Linked DNA regions of Homo sapiens. The protein of the gene in region 3 purifies or fractionates together with the protein of the main gene of each other region. This does not show direct contact. Each region holds a gene or a part of one and is shown on either strand. Other genes may lie near its edges.

Region 1 (3,548 bases), on a different chromosome or scaffold from region 3:
GGTAGTTTCTTTTGCTGTGCAGAAGCTCTTTTAGTTTAATTAGATCCCATTTGTCAATTTTGGCTTTTGTTGTCATTGCTTTTGGTGTTTTAGACATGAAGTCCTTGCCCATGCCTATGTCCTGAATGGTAATGCCTAGGTTTTCTTCTAGGGTTTTTATGGTTTTAGGTCCAACGTTTAAGTCTTTAATCCATCTTGAATTAACTTTTGTATAAAGTGTAAGGAAGGGATCCAGTTTCAGCTTTCTACATATGGCTAGCCAGTTTTCCCAGCACCATTTATTAAATAGGGAATCCTTTCCCCATTGCTTGTTTTTCTCAGGTTTGTCAAAGATCAGATAGTTGTAGATATGCGGCGTTATTTCTGAGGGCTCTGTTCTGTTCCATTGATCTATATCTCTGTTTTGGTACCAGTACCATGCTGTTTTGATTACTGTAGCCTTGTAGTATAGTTTGAAGTCAGGTAGCGTGATGCCTCCAGCTTTGTTCTGTTGGCTTAGGATTGACTTGGCGATGCGGGCTCTTTTTTGGTTCCATATGAACTTTAGTTTTTTCCAATTCTGTGAAGAAAGTCATTGGTAGCTGGGTATATACCCAAAGGACTATAAATCATGCTGCTATAAAGACACATGCACACATATGTTTATTGCAGCACTATTCACAATAACAAAGACTTGGAACCAACCCAAATGTCCAACAATGATAGACTGGATTAAGAAAATGTGGCACATATACACCATGGAATACTATGCAGCCATAAAAAATGATGAGTTCATGTCCTTTGTAGGGACATGGATGAAATTGGAAATCATCATTCTCAGTAAACTATTGCAAGCACAAAAAACCAAACACCGCATATTCTCACTCATAGGTGGGAATTGAACAATGAGAACACATGGACACACGAAGGGGAACATCACACTCTGGGGACTGTTGTGGGGTGGGGGCAGGGGGGAGAGATAGCTTTAGGAGATATACCTAATGCTAAATGACGAGTTAATGGGTGCAGCACACCAGCATGGCACACGTATACATATGTAACTAACCTGCACATTGTGCAAAGTTACCTTACTGCATAAGCCAGTGGTTCTCAGCAAGGAGCAATGTTGCCCACCAAATTTGACAATGTCTAGAGATCTTCCTGACTGTCGTGACTAAGGAGATGCTACTGACATCGAGCAGGTAGAGGCCACAGATGCTGCTAAACATCCTACCATGCACAGGACAGCCCCCACACAAAGAATTACACACCTAAATGTCAACAGTGCCACTGCTGAGAAAGCCTGCTATAAGCTAACATAAGAGAAGAGCTTCTCTGGTTAAAGCAAGTCAAGGTGGCCGGAGAGAATGGAGTGGCCTTATGAGAGCAATACACCTTGCAGGCCACATGGCGCTTCCATGCCCATGGTGGCAGTCCCACCACCTCAAATAGAACAAAAATTGCAGCTCGCAGTCCAGGTACACCAAAGCACCTCACCTCGGAGCCCTCGAGACTTAACAGACCCATGCTGGGTCATCTCAGTATCCCAGAAACTTCTCACTTTTGACAAAACTGTACCTTCACTGATACTCATGGCATCTTATACCCCTACCCCCATCTTCCACCATGCAACCAGCTAAAACCTCTTTCCCTTACATTAAACATTACCACCATCTCTAGAAGTGAGAACAGCAGCTACCTCTAGGCAGAGGGAGGAGTACTAACTAGAAAGGGGCAAAAAAGGGAGCATCCTCGGGGGCTGGAAATGTTCTGTTATGTTCATCTTGGTGGCAGGTGAATACACAAAAATTCACCAACCTCTATGCTTAAAATTAGTACACTTTTTTTGTATTACTTCAACTTTTAAAAATTCTAAAGAAAACCATCATCTCAGACCAGCATTTCATGGGCTGTAGAGCACTTTACAGACAGACAGACACACTCACAGTCACATTCATTTTCCCTTCCATCTTATGTCCACCTATGCTATTTGCCCTTCACCACCTCTCAGCCTTAGAAGACTAAGGAAAGGCACCTGTGACCTGCCAAAGATGCTTGTGCAAAGCCCTGGAGTTATAGGTTAGAAGAACAAGAGCTTCTCATGAGTTTCTTGGCACAGTACCCTCAGGACTAGTAGGATGGTGTGAAGGAGGGGGTAGGATAAGCATCCTGATCTGAATGGCATAGAATCAGCTGGGTACAGACCACAAATCTCTCCCTAGGTCAAGCTAAACTAATCCCTGCCTTTTAATTGGCTTCTGGGGCTCTGAAGACATAAGCTCTGTGGTTCTCAATTTCTCTGTAAAAGTTGCTGGAACTGACTTAAGAGGGACCAATCCACATCTAATCACAGAAAAATGAAATCCCTTCCCATCTAATACACTGAATATTGAAAATGCCAAAACCACAGTTCCGGCAGGGCTTGGGGCTCACACCTGTAATCCCAGCACTTTGAAAAGCTGAGGCGGGAAGATCGCTTGAGGCCAGGAGATTGAGACCAGCTTGATCAACAGAGTGAGGCTCTATCTCTACAAAAAATAAAAAATTAGCAAGGCATGGTGGCGCATGTTTGTAGTCCCAGCTACTCAGGAGGCTGAGGCAGGACGATCTCTTGAGCCCAGGATTTCAAGGCTGTAATGAGCTATGATTACACCACTGCACTCCAGCCTGGGCAATGGTAAGACCCGTCTCTTAAAAAGAAAAAAAAAAAAAAAAAAGTACAGTTTCCAAAATCCATGAGGTTGGTATTGTGGCTTCTGAGGAGAAAGTGACGTGCAGTAGAAGTCCTCCTTATAGCTTCATCCTTTCCAACTGCATTTGGATACAAGGGCATCCTGAGTCAGGGACAGAATCCACATCAGGAAGGCTGGCACCTCCACCCAACCGGAAATCTTTCTACAAAGAGGACATGCCGAGAGGCTTGAATATATGGTTCCTTTCTTACCGGCTTCGCTGAAGTAACTCCCAATGGGCTGGTCCAGTGGTCAGATTAAAAGCTCCTGGATATACCAACAGCTGGCAGCCTTGGGGAGAGAAAAGCCAAAGAACAGTGGATGCAGTGAGCACTCAACAAAACCAGTCCTCCCCACTGTTCCTTATCTAGCAGGAACTGAACTCAAACTTTCCCAAACATAAAAAGATGTCAGCCAAGTCAGACAGTGCCAGCAGCAATTAAGATATGGCTCTGAATTCCTTTAATACGAACACGTAAGTCACACACATATGGACACACAAGAAAAGTGGTGTTGATGACCAAAATCACATGTGACTTTGAGACAGAAATAATACAGGACGGTCGCAAGAGAACAGAAAATTCCAGGCAGCAGTTTCATATGACTAGCAAAAAGAAACTGTTGAAATAGCTGCCTACGCTAGGGGCTAAGACCCTGAGAAACTAGGGCTAAGACCCAGTGGACTCAATATGGTGCTGGGTTTGACCTAGGTTTCACCTAGGACTTCATTATCCTCATTATAAGCTCATTAACATACTAAATCACACACCCACCCGTGCCATGATAGTTTCTGGAACACCCGTATTTGGTGAAAAAATGAGTGGCACAATTCCGAGA
Region 2 (3,548 bases), on a different chromosome or scaffold from region 3:
AACACACCCCCCAACCCTAAGCCTGCAGGTCAAAGGCCGCAGCTTCTCCCCTGAGGGGCTGCAGTCAACCTGAGGCTCTCTTCGGCCCAGGCTGGAAGGTATCTCAGAATTCAGATGGAATTCTTCATATTTTATGTACATTCATGTGAGTAAATAGAACATAAATAAAAACAAACAAAACCCCTCTATTATCAGGGCATGGCTCTGGGATCAGAAAGGAGCAAGCATGGCTGGGCATGGCGGCTCAAGACTGTAATCCCAGCACTTTGGGAGGCCAAGGGGGGGTGCATCACCTGAGGTCAGGAGTTCAAGACCAGCATGGCCAACATGGCAAAAGCCCATCTCTACTAAAAAATAATAATAATAAATAAATAAATAATAAAATTAGCCAGGCGTGGTGGTGTGTGCCTAGTCCCAGCTACTTGGGAGGCTGAGGCAGGAGAATCGCTTGAAACCTGGGAGACGGAGATTGCAGTGAGCCGAGATCACGCCACTACACTCCAGCCTGGGTGACAGAGCCAGACTCTGTCTCAAAAACAACAACAAGAAAAGGAGCAGGCATAAAGGACAGGTTTGTAAGAAAGTGGCGAGCAGTCCCAGGCTGAGCAGAGATGCCGCAAGGCGAGCGGGTGTGGTCAGGACACAAAGGTTCAAACTGATGTGTTCAGGATTTCATCAGTCAACCTTATTTGCTGCTAGGCATGGAAACAGTCTAGGGCAGCTGTACTGACCTGATCCACAAACCATGGTTCACTCGGAACCCACCAAAAGGGACCAATGGCCAGGGGGATGGCAAGACAGCTGTCCCTCCCCACCCCAACACACACAGGGCCAGGGGCCGGGCAGTTTTCGGCACTCATACCTTGGAGGCAATGATGAACAGGGAGGACTCGGGGTTCAGCTGGGCCAGGGTTTTGGCAATGTGAGTTCCATCAATGTTGGAGACATACCAGACGCGGGGACCTCCTGAAGAGTATGGCTTAAGGGCTTCAGTCACCATGAGGGGTCCCTGCGGGGAGACATAGCATCAGAGAATAAGAATTCAGGGCCCACGAAAAGTGGAGACAGCCAGGTCCCATCCCTGGAGAAAGTAAAGACCTGAGTGGGACCAACAGTGCCCAGACTCCCACCCTACCCCAAGGCAGTTTTCTCCTCACCAGGTCGGAGCCGCCAATGCCAATGTTGATGACGTCCGTGATGGTCTTGCCTGTGTACCCCTTCCAGTCACCGCTCCGGACACGCTGGCACAGGGGCGAAGATGCCATCAGCCCAAACCCCCAGGCATAATCCGCTGCTCAAAAACATCATTACTGCCGTGTCCTGGTACCTCAGTCCCAGCTTTCAGGCCCTCGCAGGTGCCTCTATTTTTTTGTTTTTAATTTACCATATATATATATATATATATATTTTTTTTTTTTTTTTTTTTTTTTTTTTTTTTTTTTGAGATGAAGCCTTGCTCTGTTGCCCAGGCTGGAGTGCAGTGGCATGATCTCGGCTCCCTGCAATCTCTGCCTCCCAGGTTCACGTCATTCTCCTGCCTCAGCCTCCTGAGTAGCTGGGACTACAGGCGCCCGCCACCACACCCAGCTAGTTTTTTGTATTTTTAGTAGAGACAGGGTTTCACCGTGTTAGCCAGGATGGTCTCGATCTCCTGACCCTGTGATCTGCCCGCCTCAGCCTCCCAAAGTGCTGGGATTACTGGCTTGAGCCACCGCACCCAGCTATTTATTTTTAATTTTTTTTTTGAGACAGAGTCTCCACTTTCTGGGTTCTAACAATTCTCATGCCTCAGTCTCCTGAGTAGCTGGGACTACAAGCCTGCGCCACCAGCATGCCTAGCTAATTTTTTTGTATTTTTAGTAGGGACGAGGTTTTGCCATGTTGGCCAGGCTGGTCTCGAATTACTGGCCTCAAGTGATCTGCCCAGCTCGGCCTCCCAAAGTGCTGGAATTACAGGTGTGAGCCACCGCGCCTCGCTATTTACTTATTTTTAAAACTGTGCCTTAGGGGCCAGGCAGGGTGGCTCAAGGCTGAGACAGGAGGATTGCTTGAGTCCAGGAAGTTGAGGCTGCAGCAAGCCAAGATCGCAACACTGCACCTCCAGCCTAGGTGACAGAGGAAGACCCTGACTCCAAAAACAGAACAAAATGCTCTGCTTTAGCCTTTTTTTTTTTTTTTTTGAGACAGGGTCTCACTCCGTCGCCCAGGCTGGAGTACAACGGCACGATCTCAGCTCACTGCAGCCTCCGCCTCCAGGCTCCAGGGTTCAAGCAATTCTCCTGCCTCAGCCTCCCAAGTAGCTGGGATTACAGGCACCTGCCACCCTGCCCAGCTAATTTTTAGTATTTCCAGTAGAGATGGGGTTTCGCCGTGTTGGCCACGCTGGTCTCAAACTCCTGACCTCAGGTGATCCACCTGCCTCGGCCTCCCAAAGCGCTTGGATTACAGGCATGAGCCACCACGCAAAGCCTATTTTATTTTTTGTAGAGACAGCGTCTTGCTACGTTGCCCAGCCTGGTCTCTAACTCCTGGCCTCAAATAATCCTCCCATCTTGACCTCCCAAAGTGTTGGGATTACAGGCGTGAGCCACTACACAAGGCATAGGAGTCTCTGGAGACCACACTGGTCCCTGCCACACTCACCACCAACTAGACTCTTTCCTGGTTACAACAGTGAGACATCCCTACCTTACAGCGACACTGTCAGAATTTGCAAAACCAGGGATAACTCGGCAGAATCTGCTATGCCAGAGACCAAGAGATGTGAAATGTTGAAAACTGTGACTGGGCTATGCTGGGGAAAGGAGTATCAGACCCGCAGCCAGTCTCCAATCAGACACCAGTGATCCTTGCTTCCTGGAATTCATGCCTCTGCATAGCTTCCGCCTGTGCTGGGAGGGGTGACCTATGCACCCATCCAGAGACTGCAAAAAGGGGTGAAATGTGACTTCAGAAGTGAGTTCAGAGAACGTGCAGTTTCTGCTTTGCTCTCTTGGATGACTCGCTTTGGGGAAGCTGTCTATCATGTTGTGAAGACATTCAAACAGTTTCATAAAGAAGCCCACGCGGCAGCGAACTAAGGCCTTTTTCCAAAAGTCACAGCCAACTCGCTTCCTGTGTATGGGACACTTTAGAGGGGGGTCCTCCAAACCCATCAAAACTTCCGATAACTGGGGCGCTGGCCAACATGTTGACTACAGCCTTATGAGAGATCCCCAAACCAAGACCAACCAGCTAAGCCGCTCCCAAACTTCTGACCCACAGACACTGTGAGAGGTAATAAAAGTTTACTGCTAGGCCGGGCATGGTGGCTCACACCTGTAATCCTGGCACTTTGGGAGACCAAGGCAGGCAGATCACAAGGTCAGGAGTTCGAGACCAGCCTAGTCAACATGGTGAAACCCCGTCTCTGCTAAAAAAAAAAAATACAAAAATTATCCAGGCATGGTGGCGTGTGCCTGTAATCTCAGCTACTCGGGAGGCTGAGGCAGGAGAATTGCTTAAATCCAGGAGGCAGAGGTTGCAGTGAGTGGAGATCACGCCATTGC
Region 3 (4,354 bases):
GGTAATCTATATGTTATCTCACTCTTTCCCCCAACTCTACGAGTTCAGCAGTAGTCCTGTTTTATAGCTGATAAAAAGGAGGTGGTGTGACTCTGGTGACACACAGTGAGGAAATGACAGAGCTGGAGTTTCCGTCTGTTCCACATTGCTGCATTTGTTCTGCCTGACTTGGACCCTGGAAAACCTGGCCCTCTTCAATTTCTGACAAAAGGTAAAATGTGCAAACTTTGTGAACCAGGAATTTATCCTGCAAAAAGGTAAATGGACAGAGATGCTCGTTGCATCCCTATTTGTAATAATAAGAGATTGGGAAAACTCAAATGTTCATCAAAGGAGAATTGCTTCAACAATTTTATGTTGTAATCCATGTGATAGAATACTGATATATTTTTTAAAAAAGAGGTTAGCTCCACAGAAGTGACAGGAAACTGTCCACAATGTGTCCTGAGGCCAAAACAAGTTGCAGAACAGTATGTAAACAGTTTGTAACTTTTTTGTAACTACATAGGTAAAAATACTTTTGGCTTTACTTCTTTGTCTGCTTAGACTCCCAGATTCTCTGATGATACCACTCTGGTGCTTGTCCTAATGGGAAAGTTTCCTGAAATCCTGCGATGAGTTTGACAGTTTCAAAATTCCTTCAAACATACAGTGAATGACAGACAATTCCTGTGAATATGTGTGTGTGTGTGTGTGTGTGTGTGTGTTTGTGTATGTCCTGTTTTCTATTTATTTATTTAAGATAACCTGATTGTCATCCTCGCGCAGGGGCCATGCTAATCTCTGTATTGTTTCAATTTTAGTGTATGTGCTGACAAAGCGAGCACTGTATGCCCTGTTTATTATGGAAACATGTAATGCTTCTAGATGGAAGATATTTGATAGGATAATAGACATTAGCAGTGGTTTCCTCTGGAAAGAGAAAATGGGCATGCACTTGGCAGAGAAAGCTTCCACACTTTGGCAGAGGAACAGGCTGCTTTTAATCTAACCCTGTTTCTTTGAGAAGTTGTTCCATTTCAGCCAAACACCGCTTCAGGAGAACTGAATGTGAAAACAAAAACACTAGTTCTGCCCCATCCCTATCCCGGTCTTCTCTCACTGTTCTCAGCAAGAAAAAAAATATCCTGTATTTAATCCTAAGACTTAACCTTTTCCTGACCCTGGACAAAATGCATAGTTTAGACAAAGGGTAGACACACCACCCACTCTTTCCTCATGGTGAAGGTGTTAGTCATCTATTTTTCCCCTGTACTAGAGGTCTTTCAGAGCCAATAGTCCCTCTGGCAAGAGTGAAGCTTCATCTCTGCCCTGGATGATAGAGTCTTAGCAACCAGAATCAGCCATGCTGGAGGAGAGGTCCTTTGCATTCATTGCACCAAGTACTAGGTCGATAATGGCCCTGCCTAGCAAGATACTTGGCCTCAGAAACAAGAAAGGGGTTGATCAGAGAACCACAGGCCAGAGGGAAGTGGAGTCATTGCAGCTCCAGAGTCTGCATGGTTCATTTTGACACTAATCATAGACTCACAGAGCCCCCAGACACCCTCCAGGATAAGGCTCCTTAACTTTAGTTGGGTAACTGACCCCCTTGAGAATCTGATGAAAGCACACAATTTGGCTGGGCGTGGTGGCTCACGCCTGTAATCCCAGCACTTTGGGAGGCTGAGGCGGGTGGATCACCTGAGGCCGGGAGTTCAAGACCAGCCTAACGAACACGGAGAAACCCCATCTCTACTAAAAATACAAAATTAGCCAGGCGTGGTGGCCCATGCCTGTAATCCCAGCTACTTGGGAGGCTGAGGCAGGAGAATCACTTGAACCTGGGAGGCGAAGGTTGCAGTGAGTCGAGATCGAGCCATTACATTCCATCCTGGGCAACAAGAGCAAAACTCTGTCTCAAAAAAAAAAAAAGAAAAGAAAAGAAAAGAAAAAAAGGCACATAATTTTAGATTTCCTGGAGCCCACTGTAGAACCTCTGGGGCCATGGTTCCCAATGGGAAAGGTACAACCTTACCCTCTCATTCATGTATTGAAAAAATATATATTCTAAATTAGTTCCCTTTTATATCTCTTTTCTATTACCATAGGAGATTATATTGATTTTTAAATTACATGTGTAGGTAGGATGGGTTATATTATTGGGATATAATATTCAGAATTTCTGTATTTTGAATTTCACTTCAGAATAGTAAAGGGGACATTTTAGACACTATTTGCTGTAAAGAGGAAGTGTTTGGTCTTTACGATTTAGAACCACTGCTCCGGGGGACCCCACATTAAGATCTGCTCTGGTCTACTCCTCTCTTTTTGTTGTTGTTGTTGTTTTGAGACAGAGTCTCTCTCTGTCACCCAGGTTGGAGTGCAGTGGTGCAATCTTGGCTTACTGCAACCTCCGCCTCCTGGGTTCAAGCAATTCTCATGCCAAGTAGCTGGGATTACCAGCATGCGCCACCACACTCAGCTTATTTTTGTATTTTTTAGTAGAGACGGGGTTTTGCCATGTTGGCCAGGCTGGTCTCGAACTGTTGGCCTCGAGTGATCCACCCACCTTGACCTCCCAAAATGCTGGCATTACAGGCATGAGCCACCACGCCCGGCCATCACTTCTGTCATTTTAAGGAGAAGGAAAACCAAACCTAATAGAGACACTTGCTGAAAACACTGGGAGAGTCATTGGCAAAGCTGGACTCAGAAACCAGGCCTCCTGGTGCCTGGCTGGGCTCTTTTCACCACAGCACTGCTCACCCTTTCTATAGTGTTTCCAGTCTTCTGACCACATTGTGCACTTCTAGTGGACAAAGTCCAGATCTTTCTTTGGGAATCTTTTCATTCCTAGTTGAGTATTCTGTACTCAGTAGGCCCTTGGTAAATATTAGGTGAGAAAACAAAAGCGAAATCAATTCAAACTTTGGTTTTCCTCCTTGGTAATTTAGTGCACTGGGATAAGGACCAGAGAAGCCTGGGGAAGGTTAATGTGCTCTTGCCATTGGAGGCTGGCACAGTTTTAATTTCTCCACTGGATGACTGTTCTGCTTTCCAGGGGTCTCCTGGTTCTCCAAGGGCATTGCCCTCCCGCAGATGAGCTTGCAAGCTAATACTGGGTTCTCTCTGGGCTCACATCTAACCTTAGCTGTGGCACCAGGTAACAGCTGATTCCAACTTCATTGTCTTTGTACCTGGGAAGGGGGAATGGATCCTGTGGCCTGCCTCTGCTCCTCTTGGGAATGGGCAAGGAGCAGATCCCAGACAAGACCCTGCAGGCAGGTAAAGGTTCTGGTTGGGAATGTATCCAGAAGGAACTAAAATAAATTTGGGGGTTTGCAAGCCCAAGCCTGATTATGTTAAAAGGTTCATGTTCCCTTCTTGGGCAATGTCCTTCAGATACTAAAGAGAAGATAGAGGGGTAATGGGCAGATGCTGGAAAATGGTTTGGGGCTCTCCTACAGGCTCTGTGACCTTGGGTCAATTACTTCCCTGGTCTGGGATTCCACACTCTCTGACACATCCAGGACAGTCAATGGCCAAGAGGTTCTGGATCAGGACTCTAGGATTCTCTGATGTCTTCTGTCTTGATGTCTACATAAGCTACTTTATGGGAGAACATCCCTTCTCTATGCCCCAGCTTCCCCATCCATTAAAAAAATAATTCAAGGCTGGGCATGGTGGCTCATGCTGGTAATCTCAGCACTTTGGGAGGCCAAGGCAGGAGGGTCGCTTGAACCCAGGAGTTCGAGACCAGCCTGGGCAACACAGCGATACCTCGTCTCTACTAAAAACAAAGAAACAGACAAAAAAATTCAAGCTTATATGTATTAAGTGCTTTCTCCTCTGTGGGTGACATTGTCTGGGCTGGTGCTAAGCCTTGTTCTTGCTGAAGCACACAGTATACACCTTCTCCCCCAGGACCCGGCTGCTCACTAATAAGAATATTCCGCCTCCCCCAGGAGCTATATGGTACCACAGAGCATCTGTGAGGAGGGGGCAGTGGAGATGAAGGGTGCCTGGGATGTGAGGAAGGAGGCAAAATCTCAGGTTGGGTGACCATGTAGACAAGCAGAGAGGCCAAGACATCTGTGAGGCTAGTTCAGATCTCCTGGTAGTGCTGGTACTACCGTAGAAATGGGGCACAGGGCTTCTCCCATCTCCCGGCATTGTCTGCAGGATGGCCCTTCTCCCACAGGCCTTGTCCTAACAATAATAGTGGTGACTGCAGTGCATTGAGTGCTTGCTCTATGCCAGGCATTATGCTAAGTGCCTCACAGAACCTATCACATCAAATCATCAGGTATCCCTGTGAGATACCCCAGTGTAGCAGTCCGGAAACCGAAGCTTAGGTTTTGTCACTTGCCAA
Region 4 (3,548 bases), on a different chromosome or scaffold from region 3:
ACAAAGACATTCAGCTTGGGAGTATCACAGGCAGGACTAGAACTAGTTTCCTTAATGTTGTCTCTTTGATAAGCTTAAGAGATATTTGTAAATTTTTTACTACTTTCATTAGAAACCCATACGGTTTCTAAAAATTCAGTTAAATTTTTATTGAGTTACTGCTATGTGCAAAGCACTATACTTACCACTGAGCGTGTAAAGTTGAAACTGACTCATTAGTATGCGTGCACCACAGAGACACTTTGTTCAGCTAATCATAAGCACTCAATGAAAATATGATTATTGAAGAAAAACTGTTTCTTACCCTTAAGGGTTTCAAAATCTCAATAATTTATATTCAATAAATTAAATCGATAAGAATTTTATTTCAAAATGTCTTCGCTTTACAACCCTCATGATGTTATTAAAGAGAAAACTTCATAAGCAGAGAGAAATCTGTAACTAGAATTGTGGCAAAAAACAATAAAGTTGAGATTTTTTTCTGTGTACTTACAATAAATGTTTACCAGAAATACTAATTTGTGTATTTACGTAAGCTGTTCATATCTAAATGGGACATGTCAAAGATTTATTAATGCACAAATTCATGGATAATGTAGCCCAGTGGCTTTTAACCTTTTGGAGAATCTAATGTACATTTGCAAATTTTACATACAGTGTTAAGATGCTTATGCTTTTTTCTCCCCCACCAAGCTCATTTATGAACTTCTAATTAGATGTATCTACATCTGGAGTTATTGGGGGTATTTTGAAAGAGCCTTTCAGGTGGCTCTTGTCCATGGTGGGCTACTGCTACGATAAGAACTTATTATTTCTTGCTGGTATGTTGAAAATCACAGATAACTTTTATTCATTATTTACATAGTGTGCCTTTTTTAAAAAATCTAAACTTTGCCAGACTGGTAATCTTCTCTCGGGTATTTGTGTTCTGAGTCCAAAATAATATTACCTGCCTATTCCAGATAAAGTAGTCCTATTTTAATAAATATCAAGGGATAGTAGAAAGTATATTAAACTCTATTGCAAAAGATCCGAATTCCAAAATTACTATTAATAGTTTTATATTTAAAATAATATGTACCTAATCTTGGGCCTCAGTTCCCTCCATGTATAAAAGATTATTGTAGTAAATTCAAATTTATGGTCTCTTAAGAGCTCAGCTTTACACTTTGTTAAGTGAAATAAAGCAGCAGACTTGAAATTAGGAGATTTGAATTCTACTTCAAAGTATATTTTTGTATTTCTATGAGTGTGTGGCTACATGATTTACATTCTGTATTTTCTCATGGAATATAATGAGATGTCATTTAGCTTTCTCTCAAGCTTAGGAATGTCACACTGAGTCACTGACTTGTCGTCAGGCCTGGAATCACCATTCTCTCTGCTGCCGTCACCTCATAACAGCTATCTCCATATTCTGTGTTGGATGTGTTTCCTTCTCAAAGTTCCCCTGAACAGGAGGGTCTGTGTATTTTAATCTGCATATATCCAGTGACTGGCATAGAATTGGTACATTAAAGAGACAATAACAGTTTGACTAATTTTTTTTTCAAACTTTGGTTTTAAAAACTACATATAGGCATACATGTTTCATTTTTATTATATCACCATAAATTAGTTTCCAAAATAATATTGTAATCCAAAAATGTGTTAACTAGCTCCTCAAATTTTTTTTATCATTCTTAATTCAGAATTCACTAAGCATCTATTATATAGCAAACACCAGATACATAACTCCTTATGGAGCTCACAGCTTAGCAAGTAAGACAAAAAGGTGCAAATTATTAATTGCGTTGCAGTGTGAGGGTTTCTGTACGTGTAAACAAAATATAAGTAAATATTGAGAATTTAAGTAATGCTTGTAATATGACTCATTTTGAATTACGATAGATATTTTACTTGGTGAACATGATATATTTGTTTAATCCTGGCTCCTTGTAGAGCACAGCTCTCTTTACCAGTGGTGACATAGAGGGAACAGGGTTATTTATGTTATCGCAGGCCTTTGTCTGTGAAACTTAGAGTAGACGAAATTTCTTTTTAGCATTCTCTTTAAAGGTCTCCAGATATTTTAAAAATATGGAAAATTGTTATATATCATATCCTAAATTATTATTTTATGTATTCTACTTTTAAGTATGTTTTTGTTTTTAGGAGGATTCTCTATGGGAGGATGCATGGCAATACATTTAGCATATAGAAATCATCAAGATGTGGCAGGAGTATTTGCTCTTTCTAGTTTTCTGAATAAAGCATCTGCTGTTTACCAGGTAAGTTCCAGATTTAAAAAAAAATGAAAAAAATATGAAATATATACATGTTAAAACTAAAGCAAAATCGGTAATAAAGCTGTAAAACACACACACAGTTGATGCACAGTTGATATGGATTGACCATTCCTGGAATTCATGGCCAAATGAGTCGTAGTGATTAAATTCCAGCTGATCATTAATGTTTTGGAAATCCCCTGTACAAGAAATATTGTTAAGCAAAATGTCAAGGAGGAAAGGATAATCATGTGTGTGGTTGTGGGGGAGCATATATGTAAATTTTATACATATTAAAACTGCATGATGGTTATAGCTGGGTTTGCTTATTGCATCATGAACATAAAACAAAAATCAATTACATAGCACATACTTATTATGCAGCAATATCCTCATCTATGAATATGATGCAGCTTCAATTATAATGTTACAGCTTCAGTACCAGAAGTGGAAATGTTAAAGCAGATACAGAATAGAGAACTAAAATGTAATTGTCCCCTTGATTGTGCCTTAGCTGTGTACTCCTCCCTCCTTCCACATTGTGTGAAGAGGTCTGTCTTCCCAAGTCACTTAGTTTCTTTAGGAAATGCTTTGGCCATTTTTAAGACGTCCTCTATAGAATAAATGTAAGTGACACACAGTTACAAATTGAGTGATGCCAGGAACCAGCTAAGTCCCCAGGCCTGGCCCACCAATGTATACCTCAGACAGCACTCCCTCTGCCTTTTTTTTCCCATTAGTTATTGAAGCCTTGGTAAAATTGGAATTTTCCTGTTCTCTCTGATTTCTAAGAATGATCTTAAATGGAATTTCTTAAACTTTTCTGTCTTTGTATCTTCTTCTCTAGGCTCTTCAGAAGAGTAATGGTGTACTTCCTGAATTATTTCAGTGTCATGGTACTGCAGATGAGTTAGTTCTTCATTCTTGGGCAGAAGAGACAAACTCAATGTTAAAATCTCTAGGAGTGACCACGAAGTTTCATAGTTTTCCAAATGTTTACCATGAGCTAAGCAAAACTGAGTTAGACATATTGAAGTTATGGATTCTTACAAAGCTGCCAGGAGAAATGGAAAAACAAAAATGAATGAATCAAGAGTGATTTGTTAATGTAAGTGTAATGTCTTTGTGAAAAGTGATTTTTACTGCCAAATTATAATGATAATTAAAATATTAAGAAATAACACTTTCCTGACTTTTTTATTATTAAAATGCTTATCACTGTAGACAGTAGCTAATCTTATTAATGAAAAACAATAGACAAACATCTGTGCATAATTTTTC

What was found. Proteins that work in one complex are often made in the same cells at the same time.
Region 1: the proteins of SEC14L2 (region 3) and NIT2 fractionate together in Homo sapiens (co-fractionation; one large-scale study listed by BioGRID). This does not show direct contact.
Region 2: the proteins of SEC14L2 (region 3) and GPI fractionate together in Homo sapiens (co-fractionation; one large-scale study listed by BioGRID). This does not show direct contact.
Region 4: the proteins of SEC14L2 (region 3) and LYPLAL1 fractionate together in Homo sapiens (co-fractionation; one large-scale study listed by BioGRID). This does not show direct contact.

Annotation. Positions count from the first base shown.
Region 1 is NC_000003.12:100,348,257-100,351,804, reverse strand, and holds part of NIT2 (omega-amidase NIT2), read right to left. Parts: intron 3,003-3,548; coding exon 2,924-3,002; intron 1-2,923. UniProt on the Homo sapiens protein: Has omega-amidase activity. The role of omega-amidase is to remove potentially toxic intermediates by converting 2-oxoglutaramate and 2-oxosuccinamate to biologically useful 2-oxoglutarate and oxaloacetate, respectively.
Region 2 is NC_000019.10:34,375,196-34,378,743, reverse strand, and holds part of GPI (glucose-6-phosphate isomerase), read right to left. Parts: intron 1,242-3,548; coding exon 1,158-1,241; intron 1,010-1,157; coding exon 863-1,009; intron 1-862. UniProt on the Homo sapiens protein: In the cytoplasm, catalyzes the conversion of glucose-6-phosphate to fructose-6-phosphate, the second step in glycolysis, and the reverse reaction during gluconeogenesis.
Region 3 is NC_000022.11:30,417,518-30,421,871, reverse strand, and holds part of SEC14L2 (SEC14-like protein 2), read right to left. Parts: intron 1-4,354. UniProt on the Homo sapiens protein: Carrier protein. Binds to some hydrophobic molecules and promotes their transfer between the different cellular sites. Binds with high affinity to alpha-tocopherol. Also binds with a weaker affinity to other tocopherols and to tocotrienols.
Region 4 is NC_000001.11:219,208,378-219,211,925, forward strand, and holds part of LYPLAL1 (lysophospholipase-like protein 1), read left to right. Parts: intron 1-2,137; coding exon of another isoform or gene 2,138-2,154; coding exon 2,155-2,270; intron 2,271-3,114; coding exon 3,115-3,351; 3' UTR 3,352-3,548.